Regions from separate parts of the Homo sapiens genome. Here region 1 is linked to region 2. The links come from fine-mapping of genetic effects on gene expression. Tissue or cell type: whole blood. Region 2 holds a variant in brackets; the other region holds the start of a gene. All regions are shown on one strand. Distances are from middle to middle. Region 1 holds the start of ARMC6 (armadillo repeat containing 6). Region 2 overlaps SUGP2 (SURP and G-patch domain containing 2).

Region 1 (9,658 bases), 35 kb before region 2:
AAAAAAAAAAAGGAAAAAGAAACAGGTCACTCTGGCCCATGCTTCTCTTTTCAGGCAGTGGCATGGGATATACACATTCCATCTGTGTTCCTGCAGATGCCCACCATGGACTGCACACTGCCTGACGGGAGAAGGACTGGCTCGCAGCCAGCCTGCAGAACCCAGTTCCCATGCCCTCCACTTCAATGCCCTTTTCTTTTTTTTTTGAGACAGAGTCTCGCTCTGTCGCCCAGGTTGGAATGCAGTGGCACGATCTTGGCTCACCACAACCTCTGCCTCCTGGGTTCAAGCGATTCTTGTGCCTCAGCCTCCAAGTAGCTGAGACTACAGGCCCACGCCACCACGCCCAGCTAATTTTCGTATTTTTAGTAGAGACAGGGTTTCACCATGTTGGCCAGGCTAGTCTCGAACTCCTGACCTCAGGTGACCCACCTGCCTCGGCCTCCCATCATGCTGGGATTACAGGCATGAGCCACCACGCCCAGCCAGATACACTTTTCTTCAATTCCCTCATGTGTCAAACAGAGATAAACACGAATCTACTTCATAGGGCAGTAGTGAAAAATTCAGCCAACTCCTATACCTTCCTCAGAACAGGATATGGACAGGCTCAATAAATTAGCTATTTGTTCCTTTCCTTTGTTGCTTAAGAGGCAATTCAGCAAGTTTATGCAGGAGTCCCATCTCACTCTTTTGCAGATAGGCCCCTCTCCTTTCTGCCCCAGAAGAAAAGGGAGCTCTTTAAGGGCTGCTATGGATTTCCAAGGTTAAAGGTGAAGGAAGAGTAATATAAAGAGTTTCTCAGTAGGGAGTAAGGAGTAGGGGACTCCACTCCCACCACCCCGGCCAGGCCAGGAAATTCCTTGTGGCCCTCAAGATCTTTACCTGAAAACAATTTTGTTGAATGTCACCCTGGCAATGTAAATTGACAGGTGATCTTCACAAGTGCAGGACAGAAAGTCATCACCTGAGACAAATGCATATCCAGTTGCTCTCTCTGCCCTAACGTTTATGTAAAAATGCAGATTTGGCCTGGCTCCGTGGCTCATGCCTGTAATCCCAGCATTTTGGGAGGCTGACACCGGTGGATCACCTGAGGTCAGGAATTCGAGACCAGCCTGACCAACATGGCGAAACCCCGTCTCTACTAAAAATATAAAAATTAACTGGGCGTGGTAGTGGGCGCCTGTAATCCTAGCTACTCAGGAGGCTGAGGCAAGAGAATTGCTTGAACCCGGGAGGTGGAGGTTGCAGTGAGCCAAGATTGCGCCATTGCACTCCAGCCTGGGCGACAGAGCGAGACTCTATCTCAAAAAATAAAACAAAAAACAAGAAACAAAACCTCAGATTCATGAGTCGGACTGAGGCATAAATGACTATTCCTCTACCTGCCCTGTACCCCATATAAATCGTGTATTCTGTGAAAGGCTGACCAAAGACTCAAAAGAAAGCAATCATTTGTCTCTACCTGTGACCATCTTACACATATTCATTTATATCTCACGTCTCCCTAAAATGTATAAAAGCAAGCTGTGCCCCAACCACCTTGGGTACATGTTGTCAGGACCTCCTGAGGCTGTGTCACAGACATGTCCTTAACCTTGGCAAAATAAGCTTTCTAACTGATTGACACCTGTCTCAAATACTTCGGATTCTCAGTCCTCTGTGGAGCTTCTGCCAGCCCTTCCAGGTGGCTGCCTTTCCTGGCCACTCAGAGAGCCCACACTCTCTGGCTTCACTCCCCAACCCACAACCCCTCCCTTCCACCCACCCCTGAGCTGACTGAGTTGGGAAGGTCTGGCTCTGTGACCACCCCTGACCTGAGTCCTCCAAGGTCCCCTAGATCTGGTACAGGGCTGAGTTGGAGGAGGAAAGTACAGATTTGGAACACATAAGATGGTGCCTGGAGATGGCCAAGTAAGAATTACCTGGAGAACAGCCTAGGCTAAAAGGGGGAAGCAGCATTACCAGTCCCTATTATCCATCAGGGCATGCTGAGGGTAAAACAGAAGATGAGTAAGGCCCCTAACTGGCAGCCAGTTTCCTTCTCTCAGCCAGGAATCTGCTCATCAAGAAAACTGTGCTGTCCAGGTGCGGTGGCTCAGGCCTATAATCCCAGCGCTTTGGGAGTCTGAGGCGGGTAGATCACTTGAGGTCAGGAGTTTGAGAACAGCCTGGCCAACATAGCAAAATCCTGTCTCTACTGAAAATACAAAAAATTAGCCAGGGCCGGGCACGGTGGCTCACGCCTGTAATCCCAGCACTTTGGGAGGCCGAAGCGGGCGGATCATGAGGTCAGGAGATCAAGACCATCCTGGCTAACACGGTGAAACCCCGTCTCTACTAAAAAAATACAAAAAAACTAGCCGGGCGTGGTGGCGGGTGCCTGTATTTCCAGCTACTCGGGAGGCTGAGGCAGGAGAATGGCCTGAACCCAGGAGACGGAGCTTGCAGTGAGCTGAGATTGCGCCACTGCACTCCAGCCTGGGTGACAGAACGAGACTCCGTCTCAAAAAAAAAAAAAAAGGCCAGGCAAGATAGTGCACACCGGTAATCCCAGCTACTCAGGAGGCTGAGGCAGGAGATCGCTTGAACTCCTTTTGACTCCGTTTCAAAAAAAAAAAAAATACAAAATTTAGCCAGGTGCGGTGTTGCGCACCTGTAGTCCCAGCTACTCGGGAGGCTGAGGCAGGGGAAGCCCTTGAACCCGGGAGGTGGAGGTTGCAGTGAGTCAAGATCATGCCACTACACTCTAGCCTGGGCGACAGAGAAAGACTCCGTCTCAAAAGAAAATTAAACGTGTGCCATGACATGCTGGGGACTCTAAAAGACTCCATCCACATGTCCCTCTACCAGCCACACCCACTCTGGTTCAAACACCAGCCTCCCCTAAGGGCGGCGTCACCTGCCACTCCCAGAGCCTAGACTCCACCTCACTCACGTGCTCAAAGCCCGGTAGTGGCTTCCCAACCCTCTCAGAACAAAACCCAGCCTCCTTATCCGCACCTTCTCTATCTAAGCCTTCCAAGTTCCTCTTCCCCGCCTTTCTCATCCTTCCCAGCACTCAAGAGACAGCCTTCAAAACCACTTCTAGATAAAGAGCAGCCCTGCTTTCCCGTCCCATCACTCTGTTATTATTTGCACACCATTACCTGTATCTAGAGCAACATCGTTCACTCATTTATTTGTACCCTGTAGCCTCCTTGTCCCCACTGCCTAGGACGGGGCCCGACACGCAGCAGGCACTCAGTGCACAGGTGCTGAATGAATAAATAAAATGAATGAAAATAAAGCGAATGCCAGGGAAGCCGAGGATTTTGTCCCCAGGCGGCTTCTGTAAAATTCTTTCATTTTTTTTTTCCCCCCAAACCACGTACCCGAGGGTCGCGCCAGCCCGACCCTGCGGCACCCCCACTCCCCACTCCGCGCGGGACAGGCCTCGGCAGCCGCAGCGTCTCACCCGGTCTTCGCGGCCACGTGGGGAAAGGTGGGGCGCGCGGTTGTCACCCAGGGAGCCGCCTCTAGCCCCTTCCGGCCGCCGTACGCGCGCAGGCGCTGTGGCGCCCCTAGGCTTGGCCTCCCAGAGACTCGCGGACGCTCACGATAACCAAGGACGACCGCGAACCAAGGTAAAGCCAACGAGGCCACCTCGTGCGCGACGGAGGCGTCTTTGCCGCCCCTTCCGGGACGCTCACGGTGGTCGCCGCCCCCAGCAGGGAAATGTTTTGCCTCCAGAGCGTCCGCCCAGAAGAAGCGGACAGCGCGCTTGCGCAAGAGAGCCGGGCCGCGGCGGCCCGCGCCTGCGCACCAGGACTCGGCGGCGGCTTGCGCCTGCGCGGCGCGGCGCTGCGGAGACCGTTGGTTCATTTGCATGTCCCCGCCTCGCGCGGCGGCGGCGGCGGGTGAGGAGCCTGAGGCGGCGGCGGGGGTGGCTCCGCGCGCGGTGGTCTCGGGGTGAGGCCCGGGCCCTGGCGTCGTCGGTGGGTGGCTCCCGGGGTGGGAAGCTCGGGCTCGGCCTTGGGGGCCCGCCCCGGGCTCCGTGATGGCGTCGCAGGCTCGGCCCTCTGGCTGCGGCGGCGGCCGCGTCCCCGCCGGGTTGGCCTGGGTGGCCGGCTGCGGCCTCCCGGGCCCGGCGCCCCCATTTCCTCGCCCGCAGAGGCCGGGAGACGGCGGGCCGCGTCCACAAAGGCTCATTGGTTCAGTCGTTCATTCATTCCTCCCGAACTCGGAGCGGCCCCCGCTCGGGAGGAGATAACGGCGCCCAGCGCTGCATCGGGCCCTTGCCCTCTTTAGAACCGGTTCAGCCCCCACACCAGCCCCTTTACTGGCTGCCCATTCCATAGGTGGGGAAACGGAAGCACAGAAAGCTTAGAATCGTGTGATTTGAACCTGGGTCACCTGACCCGGGAACCCTGCCCTTTGCCAGCAGAGAACAAGGGGGCGCCCCGGGAAAAGGGCTGAAGGATGGGACTGGGGGAGGCGGGTGGGGGAGGCGGTGATCGTGATGGGAAATGGACCCTACGGGTTGTCTCTTGAAGTTGGAGGTTTTGCGAAGCGGGATATCTTGATGGTTAAGGATGCAGCCCCTGGACCCCAAAATGTTGCTTAATCTTTTTACTCATTCTTCGGGGCTTTGGATGCACGAATACCCTTTTTGCCAGGTTCAAATCTGGGCTGTCTGGTCTTGAATGGGTCGTTGAGTCTGTCTCCCTTTGCCTCCTCACCCTAATGTCATTCATAACAGGACCCGCCTCTTCAGTGGGTGGTTGGGAGATCGCGCAAGGACCCAGCGCAGAATGAACTGTCACTAGTTCATTGTCATTGGTTGGGGGTCCCGCCACTCACTGTCAAGAGGCTTCTTTTAGAAGGGAAGGAAGTTCTCAGAGCCTCTGTGCCCTGCTGAGTCTGTGAATGGGAAAAGAGTGATCCTGGGCCAGGCGCAGTGGCTCACGGCCTGGAATCCCAGCACTTTGGGAGGCCGAAGCGGGCGAATCACTTGAGGTCAGGAATTCAAGACCAGCCTGGCCAACATGGTGAAACTCCATCTCTACCTAAAATATAAAAATTAGTCGGATGCGGTGGCGGACTCCTGTAATCCCAGCTACTCAGGAGGCTGAGGCAGGAGAATTGCTTGAGTCCAGGAGGCGGAGGTTGCAGTTAGCCGAGATCATGCCACTGCACTCCAGCCTGGGCAACAGGGAGAGTCTCAAAAAAAGGAAGAAAAAAAAAAAAAAGATTGATCTCTTCTTTCCTAACCACGATTTGCGAGGGTTGTGGTCCCACCCTTCCTACTCTGTTATGCTCAGTTATGTGTGTTGGTTGACACCTTCCTCCAGCAGATAGAACTGCTTTCACAGAGCTGCTTTTAATGGATTCCAAGGAGATGGGCCCAGAGAAGGTTTGTCTTGCTCCTTTTCAGCCAGCACACACCTGTGAACTTCGTGAGGGCAGAGACCCCCTTAAAAGAGTCCAGACAAGGTGGGCAGATTGCTTGAGGTCAGGAGTTCGAGACCAGCCTGGCCAACCTAGCAAAACCCTGTCTCTACTTAAAAAAAAAAAAAAAAAAGATAAATAAAAAGGGTCCAGCTTGCCTCTGAAGTACCATGCGAGGATTATGGATTACTGCCTCCTTACTTCGAGGATTAAGTGAAATAGAGCAGGTTCTGTGAGCACGCATTTTTTTTTTCTTTGAGACAGTCTCGCTCTGTCCCCCAGTCTGGAGGGCAGTGGCATGATCTCGGCTCACTGCAACCTCTGTCTCCCTGGTTCAAGCAATTCCCATGCCTCAGCCTCCTGAGTATTTGGGATTACAGGCACGTGCCACCATGCCTGGTGAAATTTTTTTTTTTTTTTTTTTGAGACGGAGTCTCACTCTGTTACCCATGCTGGAGTGCAGTGGCATGATCTCGGCCCACTGCAACCTCCGCCTCCTGGGTTCAAGCAATTCTCTTGCCACAGCCTCCCAAGTAGCTGGGATTAAAGGCAGGCACCACCATGCCCGGCTAATTTTTGTATTTTTAGTAGAGACAGGGTTTTGCCATGTTGGCCAGGCTGGTCTCCAACTCCTGACTTTAAATGATCCGCTCACCTCAGCCTCCCAAAGTCCTGGGATTACAGGTGTGAGCCACCACACCCAGCCTGAATTTTTTGTATTTTAGTTTCATCATGTTGCCTAGGCTGGTCTCGAACTCCTGAGCTCAGGTGATCCGCCCACCTCGACCTCCCAAAGTGCCAGGATTACAGGTATGAGCCACCGCGCCCAGCTCCAAGTTGTTGCTCTTAGTGTATTTTTTTCTCTCTCACCATAGGGCAAAATAACATGGCAGCCAGACGAATTACACAGGAGACTTTTGATGCTGTATTACAAGAAAAAGCCAAACGATATCACATGGATGCCAGTGGTGAGGCTGTAAGCGAAACTCTTCAGTTTAAAGCTCAAGGTAAAATAAAGTGTTGTTGTTGTAGTTGTTGTTTTGGTAGGGGTGTATCTTAGGGCCAAGGCAGGAAGATTACAATACCTTGGGCAAATAATACCAGTCCTCTGATCCTTAGTTTCCTTATTTAGGAGGAGGTAAAGGTTTTTATTTTGGTTTGGTTTCTTTTTTGTGATAGGGTCTTACTCTCTCCCCCAGGCTGAAGTGCAGTGGCGCAGTTTTAGCTCACTGCACCCTTGAACTCCTAGGCTCAAGCCATCCTTCCATCTCTGCCTCCCAGAGTGCTGGGATTATAGGCATGAGCCACTGCACTTGGTCAGGGGATAATGTTTTGATCTGTCAGTCATCATTATGTAGTTATCTGGAGCTTCTCACTGGATATCCTCCCCGACCCACCTCAAGACAGTTTTGTTTATTGTTTGTTTGTTTGTTTGTTTGTTTTGAGACGGAGTTTCACTCTTGTCTCCCAGGCTGGAGGGCAATGGAGGGATCTTGGCTCACTGCAACCTCCGCCTCTTGGCTCACTGCAACCTCCGCCTCCTGGGTTCAAGCGATTCTCCTGCCTCAGCCTCCTGAGTAGCTGGGATTACGGGCATGCACCACCACGCCCAGCTAATTTTTCTATTTGTAGTAGAGATGAGGTTTTACCATGTTGGCCAGGCTGGTCTCGAACTCCCGACCTCAGGTGATCCACTTGCCTTGGCCTCCCAAGATGCTGGGATTACAGGCATGAGCCACCGAGCCCAGCCCAGTTTTGTTTTTTGGTGTTTTTTATGTTTTTGTTTTTTTTGTTTTTTGTTTTTTTTAATAGATATGGAGTCTTGCTATGTTTTCAGGCTGGTCTGCAACTCCTGGGCTCAAGTGATCCTCCCACCTCTGCCTTCAGCATGTTGCGATTACAGGCGTGAGCCACTGCTCCCAGCCCCAAGACAGGTTCTTGGATCCATTTCCTGGCTCCATCCCTGTCACCGCTGCCCAGGTTTAAGCTCTACTAGTTCTTTTTTTTTTTTATTTGAGACAGAGTCTTGTACTGTCGCCCAGGCTGGAGTGCAGTGACGTGATTTTGGCTCACTGCGGCCTGTGCCTCCTGGATTCAAGCGATTCTCCTGCCTCAGCCTCCCGAGTAGCTGAGATTACAGGTGCCTGCCACCATGCCCGGCTAATTTTTTTGTATTTATTTTAGTAAAGATGGGGTTTCACTATGTTGGTCAGGCTGGTTTTGAACTCCTGACCTTGTGATCTGCCCGCCTCGGCCTCCCAGAGTGCTGGGAGGATCACAAGGTCAGGAGATCGAGACCATCCTGTGAATGGTGAAACCCCGTCTTTACTAAAAATCAAAAAAAAAAAAAAATTAGCCAGGTGTGGTTGTGGGTGCCTGTGGTCCCAGCTACTTGGGAGGCTGAGGCGGGATAATGCCGTGAACCCGGGAGGTGGAGCCTGCAGTGAGCCAAGATTGCGCTACTGCACTCCAGCCTGGGCGACAGAGCGAGACTCCATCTCAAAAAAAAAAAAAGAAAAAAAATGGCCGGGCGCAGTGGCTCAAGCCTGTAATCCTAGCACTTTGGGAGGCCGAGGCGGGCGGATCACAAGGTCAGGAGATCGAGACCATCCTGGCTAACACGGTGAAACCCTGTCTCTACTAAAAATATTAGCCGGGCGTGGTGGCGGGCGCCTGTAGTCCCAGCTACTCAGGAGGCTGAGGCAGGAGAATGGCGTGAACCCAGGAGGCGGAGGTTGCAGCGAGCCAAGGTTGTGCCACTGCACTCCAGCCTGGGTGACAGAGCAAGACTCCGTCTCAAAAAAAAAAAAATTTATCTGGGCATGGTGGCATGCGCCTATGGCCCTGGCTACTTGGGAGGCTGAGGCAGGAAGTTCGCTTGTGCCCAGGAAGTCGAGGCTGCAGTAAGCTGTGTTTGTGCCATTATACTCCAGCCTGGGCCAAAGAGTGAGACCCTGTCTCAAAAAAAGACGGCCAGGTGCAGTGGCTTACACATGTAATCTCAGCACTTTGGGAGGCCAAGGTGGGCAGATCACCTGAGGTCAGGAGTTTGAGACCAGTCTGGCCAACATGGTGAAACCCCGTGTCTACTAAAAATACAAAAATGTGGCAGGCCCCTATAATCCCAGCTACCCAGGAGGCTGAGACAGAAGAATAGCTTGAACCCAGGAGGTGGAGGTTGCAGTGAGCCGAGATCGCACCACTGCGCTCCAGCGTGGGTGACAGAACGAGACTCCGTCTCAAAAAAAAAAGACAGATTAGGGGGCCGTGGGTGGGAGAGGACTAGAAACCTAGCAGTATGCTAGGTGATTCTGGAACATTTCTGTGTTGCAAAGCAGTCTATCGTTTAGCCTTTCTCTGTTTCTCTGCTCCACTCTGAACTTTTCATCTCCTCATAAAGGGTATGAGAAAATTCTCTTGAGTAGAATCCAGCCATCACTCTCTGTCACTAATGTTCCCTCCCTAATCATGCCATCAATACCAATCATCAATACCTGGGTTATCACAGTGGATTTCTTGCAGGAACATCCACGTCTGTGCTCATCTCCTTTAATCTGTTCCCTGTGCAGCAGCCAGTGAGATCATCCCTCTGCTTAGAACTCTTCACTAGCCTTCTGTCTCTCCCAGAGTAAATTCCAGAGTACCACTGAGGGCCCGACTTGGATCTGGTACTCCTTCTCCATTTGTGTCTCTTATATTAGTGGTTCCCTAACTTTGTAGCACGTTAGCGTCACCTGGGGGCCTTTTAAAAACCCTGATGCCCAGGTCATCCCCTTATTTAATTAAGTAAGAATGTCTGGGGAGGTGGTCCCTGGGGCTCCAGTAGCAGAGTTTGGGAGCTGCCTTCCTACCACTTGGCCTTTCATTCCCTGTGTTCCCTTCTGTCTACATTGGCCCCCTACTGGTCCCACCTCAGGGTCTTGTCCTCATTCCCCCTCTGCCTGGAAGGCTTCCCTTTGTAACTGTACGGTCTGGCTCCTCATGCCAGGCCACTGCTGCTAGATAAAGTGTCAGAGCTATGCAGCGTGACACGGTGGCTCACGCCTGTAATCCCAGCACTTTGGGAGGCCGAGGTGGGCGGATCACAAGGTCAGGAGTTCCAGACCAGCCTGGCCAATGTGGTGAAACCCTGTCTCTACTAAAAATACAAAAGTTAGCCGGGCATGGTGGCGGGTGCCTGTATTCCCAGCTACTCAGGAGGCGGAGGCAGGAGAATCGCTTGAAC
Region 2 (9,658 bases):
ATCCCATCTCTACTAAAAATACAGAATTAGCGAGGCGTGGTGACGCATTCCTGAAATCCCAGCTACTCGGGAGGCTGAGGCTGGAGAATCGCTTGAACCTGGGAGGTGAAGGTTGCAGTGAGCTGAGATCACACCACTGCACTCCAGCCTGGGCAACAAGAGCGAAACTGTGTCTCAAAAAAAAAAAAAAAAAAAAAAAAACAGACTTGCTAATCTCCCTTTCATAAAAAATAGAATAAAATGATATGATGTGGTTCTCTATATGAGAAGCATGGTTGTTTTTCACTAGAAAGTTTTAGGCAGACTTTAATTCTTTTTTTTTTTTTGAGATGGACTCTTGTTCTTGTCGCCCAGGCTGGAGTGCAGTGGCACAATCTCGGCTCACTACAACCTCTGCCTCCCGGGTTCAAGTTATTCTCCTGCCTCAGCCTCCTGAATAGCTGGGATTGCAGGCTCCCGCCACCACGCCTGGCTAGTTTTTGTACTTTTAGTAGAGACGGGGTTTCGCCATGCTGGCCAGGCTGGTCTCGAACTCCTAACCTCGGGTGATCCGCCCATCTCGGCCTCCCAAAGTGATGGGATTACAGGCATGAGCCACTGCGCCTGGCCAGACTTTAATTATTTCCCAGTGAATTAGCTGCAGATAAACTAGGAGGGCACAGTATCACAAATATTTTGTTGAAGCAAAATATATTTCTGTAGTCATGGAAAATAATCCATGTATTGGATCTTTTGTTATAAATGTGGGGACTCTTAGGTTTGAATAGACTTTCCAAAAGCAAGGCACCGCTCAGTGAACCCTTCATTATGGCCCAAGCTGCCTACCCTGAGCGTGTCCCGTCTCTGCTCACTCCAGGGGTCATACATGTTCATTCTTGAGAGGAGCTGGGGCTCAGCAGCTGCCATGCAGAGCCTAAGACACCTTCTGTCATCAGAGAACTGTTAGCCAAAATAGACTGCAAGATCTTCAGTCTCTAAGTAATTTAGGAAAAGCACATGTATGTGTATGTGTCTCTTTCTTTTGTCTTCTAGTCCATGAACCAGTTCGAATTGCCTATGACAGGCCTCGGGGTCGTCCCATGTCCAAAAAGAAGGTGAGCGTAATCATTGGTAGTCCTCACTCAAAGTATAGTTGGTTAGAATTTGTTGGAGTTCCAAAGGATGCTGCAGCTTGTGATTAAGCTGTGCTAACATTTCAAACTGAGGTATTAATGTGTAAAACACAACAGAGACTTTTCTCTTGGGAGGGCTTTTGAAAACTGTTTTGCCTTTGTCCAAAGCATAGACTAGTGATTCATCTGTGTAATGGATAGTTGAGATCCCTGTAATGGATGCAGTGGGATTTGAGAGATAAACGAGATAATGTCTTGGCCCTTAAGAAGTTCAAGCTAGGCCAGGTGTGGTGGCTCACGCCTGTAATCCCAGCACTTTGGGAGGCAGAGGGCGGGTGGATCACAAGGTCAGGAGATCGAGACCATCCTGGCTAACACGATGAAACCCCGTCTCTACTAAAAATACAAAAAATTAGCCGGGCATGGTGGCAGGCGCCTGTAGTCCCAGCCACTCAGGAGGCTGAGGCAGGAGAATGGCATGAATCTGGGAGGCAGAGCTTGCAGTGAGCCGAGATCGCGCCACTGCACTCCAGCCTGGGCGACAGAGTGAGACTCCGTCTCAAAAAAAAAAAAAAAAGAAGTTCAAGCTAAGGCCGATTGGGTGTCTTACACTTGTGATCCCAGCAGTTTAGGAGGCCAAAGTGGGCAGATCGCTTGAGTCCAAGAGTTTAAGACCAGCCTGGGCAATAGGCAAAACCCTGTCTCTGCAAAAAATACAAAAATTAGTTGGGCATGGTGGTGCATGCCTGTAGTCCCAGCTACTCTGGAGGCTGAGGTGGAAGGATCATTTGGGCCTGAGAGGTCGTGGCTGCAGTGAGCTGATTGCACCACTGCACCCCAGCTTGGGCGACAGACTGAGAGCCTGTCTCAAAAAAAAAAAAAAAGTTCAAGTTATCCAGGTGCACTGATTCACGCCTGTAATCCCAGTGCTTTGGGAGGCCAAGACAGGGGGATCACTTGAGCCCAGGAGTTTGAGGCCAGCCTGGGCAACATAGTGAGACCTATGTCTCCTCCTGGTCTCCTTAAAAAATAAAACATAAAAACTTACAAGCTTAGTAGACTGGAAGGGTGGTGAAGAGAGTTCACTAATCTGCTAGTAAGCAGAGCGTGGTGTGTGCGGTCAGCACCTCCTACGTGCCAGGTCCCGACTGTCCACCTGGAGGCAGCAGCAAGCAGGGCCAACAGTGAAAGAGAAATGGATGAGGCAGTCCTGGGGATGCTGTGGGCAAAGAGAAGCAGGTCAAAGAGAGGGAGAATAAGGTGGGGTCGAGGGGATGCCGCTGAATTGGGAAAGCCAAGGGAGGTCTCTCTTGCAGATGACGTTGGCACAAGCCTGGAGGAGCTGAGGAGAAACAGTGTAGAGATCTGAGAAGGGCACAGCCTCGGTAGAGAGGCTGGGGCAGCAAGAGGCCTTTGTGGCAGCAGAGGAATCCGGGGGGTGGTCACACAGGACCTCAACAGATGTTAACGCTGTGGCCCTTTCTCAGGGAAGGGAGGGTACCTCTGGGACCTGTGGTGGATGTGGCCACTAGGGTGGAGAGCAGCCTGTGGGCGGGAACCAGGAGGAGGCTCAAACTTAAGACAGTTGGACCAGGGCATGAGGAGCAATGAGAAGGGGAGAAGATGGAGTGGGTGACACCTGCTTGTGGGCTGGGTGTGCAAAAGCCAGGAGTCCAGATGACCCCAGGGTTGTCAGCTTGGGCAGAAGAGGGACAGAACTGCCATTCACTGACCTGGAGCCAGGTTATGGAAAGGGGGCAGGTACACTCCAGATGGCCTGGGGGACACAGTGCTGGGGGCAAGCAGGGTCACCTGGGACACATGTGGAGAGACTTCACCAGTCCTTCATGGTCAGGGAGGAGGGCGGGGAGCCAGGCGAGATCGCTCTGCTGGTGTCAGGCAGTGCCATGTTGCTTCCAACCCCTTCCGAGTGACCTAGGTCAGTCTGACCCCAATTATGGCAGGAAGGAGGGACCTTCCCGAGTCCAGAGCTCATAGTCCTTACTGATGTGCCAGGTTTTAGGCTGAGCTGGCATCTGGTGCCCCTTGGTGTGGCCTGGATAAGGGCACGGCCAGATGAGGGCACAGCAGGACCTTGGTGTCAGGCACAGCTGTACTCTAGCTCAGCCCTGCCACCGAGTAGTTTTGTAACCTTGGCGTGTAACCCCTGAGCCACGGATTTGTCTGTAAAATGGGATGGCCACACTTACCCAGCAGGTAGGAGGTACAGTGAGGATTAAACTGAACGCGGTTCCTGGTGGGTGTCCTGCACATGCTGCTGTCTCCTTGGGGCTCTGCACCTGTCCTCCTGTCTGCCAGTGACTGTGGGTGGAAGGGAGGCCGTGGTGGCTGCAGCTTTCCTCTGCAAACCTCCACCTCGCCCACAGGGCTTGGCTTTCCTCCAGCTGTCCAGGAAACCACCATCATGATTGTTAAACACAGATTTGAACATTCACGAAGAAACTTCCAGGCTGAGCCAAACCCTCTTCCTCCCACTGCACCTCCAAGCAGCCTTCCTGAAAGGGAAAAGAGTACAGACCTGCCCTCTGGGGACCCCTGTGCCCTGCCATGACCAGCCTTTCCCCTTCCTTCCCTACCCGTCATCCCAGGGCCCAGGTCGTGCACAGCTCCCAGAAGGGCCTGACGGATGCCCCGTTTCTCATCTCAGCCGGTGGGTTCTGTCACCTCTTTTCTCCAGGCCACTTTCTCATGGCAAGGGGCCCCCCAGTGTAGCAGGTCCTGTCTGGTGTCCCCTGGTTTGCAGGGGTGTCTCTTCACTGTTTGTGCCCCTCTTCCTGTCCCAGCCCATAGCATAGCTCCTCCCTTCATACCTCCCCTCCTTAACTGCCCTGCAGAGACACTTCTGCCCACACCGCCTCACCAAGACCACCTCATGCCATTATGGAGGGGCCGCCTGCATCCAGTAACTCACGCACACACACAAGATACACACATGTGCACGCATATGCACACACACATGCATACACACACGCACACACACATGCATACACACACACAGCTACTTTATATAATACCCTCGGAGATGCCTCTGAAGAGAACAAAGGGAATTTCCCTCCGCCTTTGAAGGTCCAAGTCTAAGCCTGTTGAAATGAACTGACAATAAGAAGATTAACAGGATAAAAAAAGGTGTGCGGTGGCTTACACCTGTAATCCCGGGACTTTGGAAGGCCAAGGCAGGGGGATCACTTGAGCCCGGGAGTTCAAGACTGCAGTGAGCCATGATGGAGCCACTGCACTCCAGCCTGGGTGACAGAGCAAGATCCTGTCTTGAAACAAAAAAGTTATACATATTTATTCACGTGCATAAGCACAGGAGCCATATAAAACATTATGAAAACTCAAAGAAGGGCCAGGTGGTTGAAGCTGAAATACCTCTTTGTAGGGGAGAGGGCAGATGGGAGGCTGTAGGTAACTTTAGAGGGGAAGCAGATGATTTTAGGAGAGATGAATGGAGGCAGGCATCATCTTGTGAATGATCCTCATTGAGAATTGAATGGGACTAGAGAACAGCCAGTGGTCTGGGCTCTAGGTGTGGTGTTTAATGTTCCATCTCTTCTTGTGTGATAGGAGTTTTCAACTCTGGTTAATGACATTTCAGGGAAGGGATCCAAGGCCCTTGTGTTCTTCTTTGGCAAGTCCAGTTTCTAGGTAGATAGGGAACTTGAAGAAAACAGCTTCCTCCTGTGCTTTGGGAGGGACCTTGAGGCTGCTACTTTAGTCCCACCTGTCAAAGTGCTATAATTCGGGGTATCGCTTTCTTTCTTTCTTTCTTTTTTTTTTTTTTTTTTTTTGAGAC[G/A]GAGTCTCCCTTTGTCGCCAAGGCTGGAGTGCAATGGCATGATCTCAACTCACTGCAACCTCTGCCTCCCAGGTTCAAGGGATTCTCCTGCCTCAGCCTCCAGAGTAGCTGGGATTACAGGGGCGTGCCACCACACCTGGCTAATTTTTGTATTTTTAGTAGAGATGGGGATTCACCATGTTGGTCAGGCTGGTCTCAAACTCCTGACATCGTGATCCACGCACCTTGGCCTCCCAAAGTGCTGGGACTACAGGCGTGAGCCACCGCGCCCAGCCTTAGGGTATCCGTTTCTGACCCCCTACATCTTGCTGCATGTTGAGTTCTCAGCACCTCTCCAGGTTGTTTTGTCCCTTTCTAGGGTGAGAACACTGAGGCCCCAGGAGCTCCAGAGGCCCAGGCCTTCCTTATGGGAGCACTTGCTCTCTCCTCCCTCCCTCCCTCCTGACCTGAGGCCCTGCTCTCTCCCTTCTCCCTTTCCTCTCCCAGCCCCTGGCTCCCCCAGGCTCAGCCTTTTGTGCCTTGTCTCCAAGCTCCTTTGTCTCTGGAGTGCCTCCCACATGCACCCCTAACGTTAGGGAAGCTGATTCCTGGGCACCTCAATGCAGATGGCAAGGGGGGGATTTGTCTTTTGGTTGAATTATACCTCGTGAGGCCTGCATGACATCATGGGGCAGGTTGCTAAGCTGATGAGGGCTGACTGCCCAAAGACCTGAGCTCACAGCACTCAGCATGCCCTTCTCACCCTGCTTCCCATGCCCAGGGTCATCTAACCCTCTCCCAGCCACTCCCACCTGTCCCCTGCTCAGACCCCCAGCACCAGCCCCCGTGATCCTCCTCAGCACCTTCCTCCCTCCCTCTCAAGAGCACATGAACCCTCACAGCCTCCCCAGGTCGTTCAGTAAATGCCTTAAATAAATACATCAGCCAGGCGCAGTGGCTCATGCCTGTAATCCCAGCACTTTGTGAGGCTGAGGCGGGCAGATCAGCTGAGGTCAGGAGTTTGATCAAGACCAGCATGGTTAACATGGCGAAACCCCGTCTCTACTAAAAATACAAAAATAGGTGGGCGTGGTGGCACACGCCTGTAATCTCAGCTACTCGGGAGGCTGAAGCAGGAGAATCGCTTGAACCCAGGAGGCGGAGGTTACAATGAGTTGAGATTGCATCACTGCACTCCAGCCTGGGCAACAGAGCAAGACTCCGTCTTAAAAAAAAAAAAACATCAAAAGCTGGGTGCAGTGGCACATACCTATAGTTCCAGTTAATGGGGAGACTGAGGTGGGAGGATCACTTAAAGCCGGGAATCCGAGACCAGCCTGGGCAACATAGCAAGACTCTATATTTAAAAAAAACACACACAAGTTTTGTATTTTGTTTCTTTTTTTAGACAGTCTCATTGTGTTGCCCAGGCTGGAATGCAGTGGCACGGTCTCCGCTCACTGCAACCTCTGCCTCCCAGGTTCAGGCGATTCTCATGCCTCCGCCTCACAAGTAGCTGGGATTACAGGTGCCTGCCACCATGCCTGGCTAATTTTTGTATTTTAGTAGAGACGGGGTTTTGCCACGTTGGCCAGGCTGGTCTGGAACTCCTGACCTCCAGTGATCCACCCACCTCGGCCTCCCAAACTGCTGAGATTACAGGCATGAGCCACCACGCCCAGCCCACCCACACAAGTTGACTCGTGAAGAGCCAAGGAATACATGGCAAGGTCTTGGACTGCCCAGCTGGGCTCTGTCACACAGCAGTGTGTCATGAATATTCATGAGTGAATAGAAATTCCTTCTGCTACAGCCCTGCAGGCTCCTCCTCCAGAGGCCCCAGGGCCCTGTCTGTCTCCAGATCTCCATCTAGTGGCCCAGAGATTGCTGCACTTCCCCACCACCCACAGGAGCAATCAACAGCTGTACTAGCTCTCAGTGAGGTCTGCTCTGTGCTAGACACAGACCCCAATGTCCAAGTAGAACTCAGTCCTGAGGACAGACAGACAATGCAGCCAGGGAGTGAATGAAGCACTCGGGGAGGGGTATGTTGGGGTGGTTCAGGGAGGGTGCTGCCAGCCAGTTCTCACCCACTGTCTGGCCCCCATCCTGCCTGCAGGCCTGTGCCCTGGTGCCCCCCACTCTTCCCTGGGCTGCGCCCTGTGGTCATCACAGGGCCACCCTTCTTTATCCAGGGTTCCGCTGAGGGCCTTCCTACTGACTCCTTGACCCCGGGACTGGCCATTCCCTTACCCAGTTTTCCTCACAGTCTTGGCACCAGGGTTATAGTGGTAGCTGAGAGGCACGACTGACCTCAGGCCAGTGACCTCTGACTTAGAAGTTCCATCCCACCCAGGGATGTTGCAGAGAACTGGGGAAGTGACTGGAGCTTGAGCCTGAGCATCTGGGGAGTCAGGAGGGCATTTGGGGGTGAGGGGCTCCAGGCATAGCCTAGGACAGACCCTTGATCCAGGCATCTCCCTGTGGCCCACATGCCTGGACTCTCCTCTCTCCTCAGAAACCCAAGGACTTGGACTTCGCCCAGCAGAAGCTGACCGATAAGAACCTGGGCTTCCAGATGCTGCAGAAGATGGGCTGGAAGGAGGGCCATGGCCTGGGCTCCCTCGGAAAGGGCATCAGGGAGCCGGTCAGCGTGTACGCAGCAGGCAGCCTGGGGTGGGAGTGGGTGGGGCCTCAGTCCTTCCACCTGCAGCCTGCCGCTTGGCTCCTTCACAGCCAAGATGGCTTACAGCTGGCAGTTGATTTTTGTTTTTTAAACAGAAGGCATCTTCAGATGAGAAGCTGATCATTTACATGTGCAGGTGTTTACAGGGCTCCTTTCTGTCCTGGTGTAGATTTTTTAACCAGCTTGTTGGCCCTGGTCATTTTGGCCACATTTGTGACCATCATAAAAGCTAAGTGGTATTTCTGTGTAGTTTCCGTCTGGAACTGCTTTCCCATTCCCGGGAACCCATAGCCGGGCCAGCCAGGGTCCCGAACACAGGCCCAAAGTTTATTAAACCCCGATCATAACCTCCAGCAGGCATTTCATTTAATACTGAGCTTAGTTCCTGCTGGGTAAGGCATTCCGAGGTAACCAGGGCCCTCTGGGCACCCCCTCAAAAGCCAGCTCTTCGAGGGTGAGTACTCCTTGTTTCTACTGTGAGTCGCGTCTTGATTTTCCCTTTCTTTGATGTCTCAGTGTGTGTCCCAAACACCTGCATCTCATGGACTGTTTGTGCCCATGCCCAGTTCCTGGCATGCCAGGCCCTGGGCTCAGGTGCACAACTGACTCTCTTTTTCACTCCCTAGGGGAACCCCCTCGGAAGGGGAAGGGTTGGGTGCTGACGGGCAGGAGCACAAAGAAGACACATTCGATGTGTTCCGACAGAGGATGATGCAGATGTACAGACACAAGCGGGCCAACAAATAGGTATGTTCACAGGCCAGTGTGTAAGGCCGTCTGCCCTCGCTGGCGTGCTGGTATGCAGAGAAATTTCCCCCAACAAAGTTGATGTTCCCTGCTCCCCCAAAAATGCCACACACAAAAAAAATCACAAAATTCTGTGAGGGAAACAAAAGGGTCTATGGATGTGGATATGCCCCATTCTTACCTTCCAGGTTTGCTGAAGGAGCAAACCTCACACTGGCCAAGGGCAGATGCGCATGGCCTGCCTGGTGCCCCGGCTGTGAGCCCCTCAAGGCCTCCAGGCCAGCCTCCGTGGATGTGCGTGTGGAAATAGGCCACGCCTGTCTCTTCTCTTGCTCAAGTTTTCTCTCACAGATGACAGCCACCTACCACATAACATGACCAGCAAACGGACTGTTCCTAGTCCAGAGGGCCTTGCCATCATGCAAGTGGAAGGGCGACTGTGACAGCCACTGCCACAGAGGATGGCAGTTGGCTGTGTCCCTTTGTGAGGGTCTTCAAATCCTTTTCCTTCTGCAGGGCCTTGGGCCTGTAAATATCCTCATCTTTCTATTCTTTTTTTTTTTTAGTTGCCCCCTCACCTAATTTCCACCTCAGTTTTGAACAAAATCGTTCTCTTCCTGAATAGATCAAAACCACTGATGTGAAAGATAAGCCTTGAAGCAGCAATTGCCCTTAAAACATCATCCCTGCCCTGGATCGGCCTGGAGCCAGTGCCCAAGTACGGTTTGGTGTGTACATGAAAACAAACGTCTCTGCAGTCTCTGGGGCGGAGGTTTCGCTGGCTTTTCTTTCTCTCAAAGAAAAAAACATGCACCATTTTCAATGTGCTTTTGCCTCTCCTCTCTGTTCACATGCTTTTAGCAGCAAGTCCCCTCCAAATCTGTCTTGGTTCCCCTTCAGAAGGTGGCGCTGCCCCCGAAAGGCACCTCAGCCTGTGAGTGCTGAGGAACCAGCTCCTCTGGCTGATTTTCCAGTTGGACTGGCCATTGCTCTCCAGAAGTGCTCTGTTAGCAAACGTGATGTGGAAACGATCACAGATGGTGTTTTCTCGTTGTTCGCCAGAATTTATACGGGGGAGACAAATTCCCGGTAATTACCAAGTCTGCACTCGGGTACCAAAGCTCTGAAGCTCTCTGAACAGTTGCCATACTTGAGTTGATGAATGTGTTATTCATGGTGTCTCATCTCATCAATGCATCTTGAGAGACTTAATGAAATTTTAGCAACAGTATAGAATAGCTCTATCGGGTGGGGAGTAATCATTAAACAGATGAAATCGGCCCCAGATTTACATGTCTCTTTAGAATCCACAGTGTA

The links. PIP is the estimated chance that this variant, and not a neighbour inherited with it, causes the effect.
Region 1: ARMC6 starts here. The variant in region 2 is fine-mapped to the expression of ARMC6 in whole blood (TOPMed, PIP 0.97).

Annotation. Positions count from the first base shown.
Region 1 is chr19:19,027,733-19,037,390 of GRCh38, reverse strand. It overlaps ARMC6 (armadillo repeat containing 6), which reads right to left and starts at 3,788. Exons shown (of 9, transcript NM_001199196.2): 1 at 3,461-3,788; 2 at 3,153-3,260. The coding sequence starts at 3,181. SUGP2 (SURP and G-patch domain containing 2) reads left to right here and starts at 3,874. Exons shown (of 11, transcript NM_001017392.5): 1 at 3,874-3,954; 2 at 6,309-6,440. The coding sequence starts at 6,320. RefSeq lists silencers at 3,785-4,214, 4,635-4,714 and an enhancer at 4,641-5,142.
Region 2 is chr19:18,993,049-19,002,706 of GRCh38, reverse strand. SUGP2 (SURP and G-patch domain containing 2) reads left to right here. Exons shown (of 11, transcript NM_001017392.5): 8 at 1,033-1,094; 9 at 7,427-7,563; 10 at 8,221-8,341; 11 at 8,967-9,658. The coding sequence ends at 8,341. Among named protein-coding and RNA genes, the nearest start is that of SUGP2, 36 kb to the left of the region's middle. The variant G/A (reference allele first, on the strand shown) is at 4,930.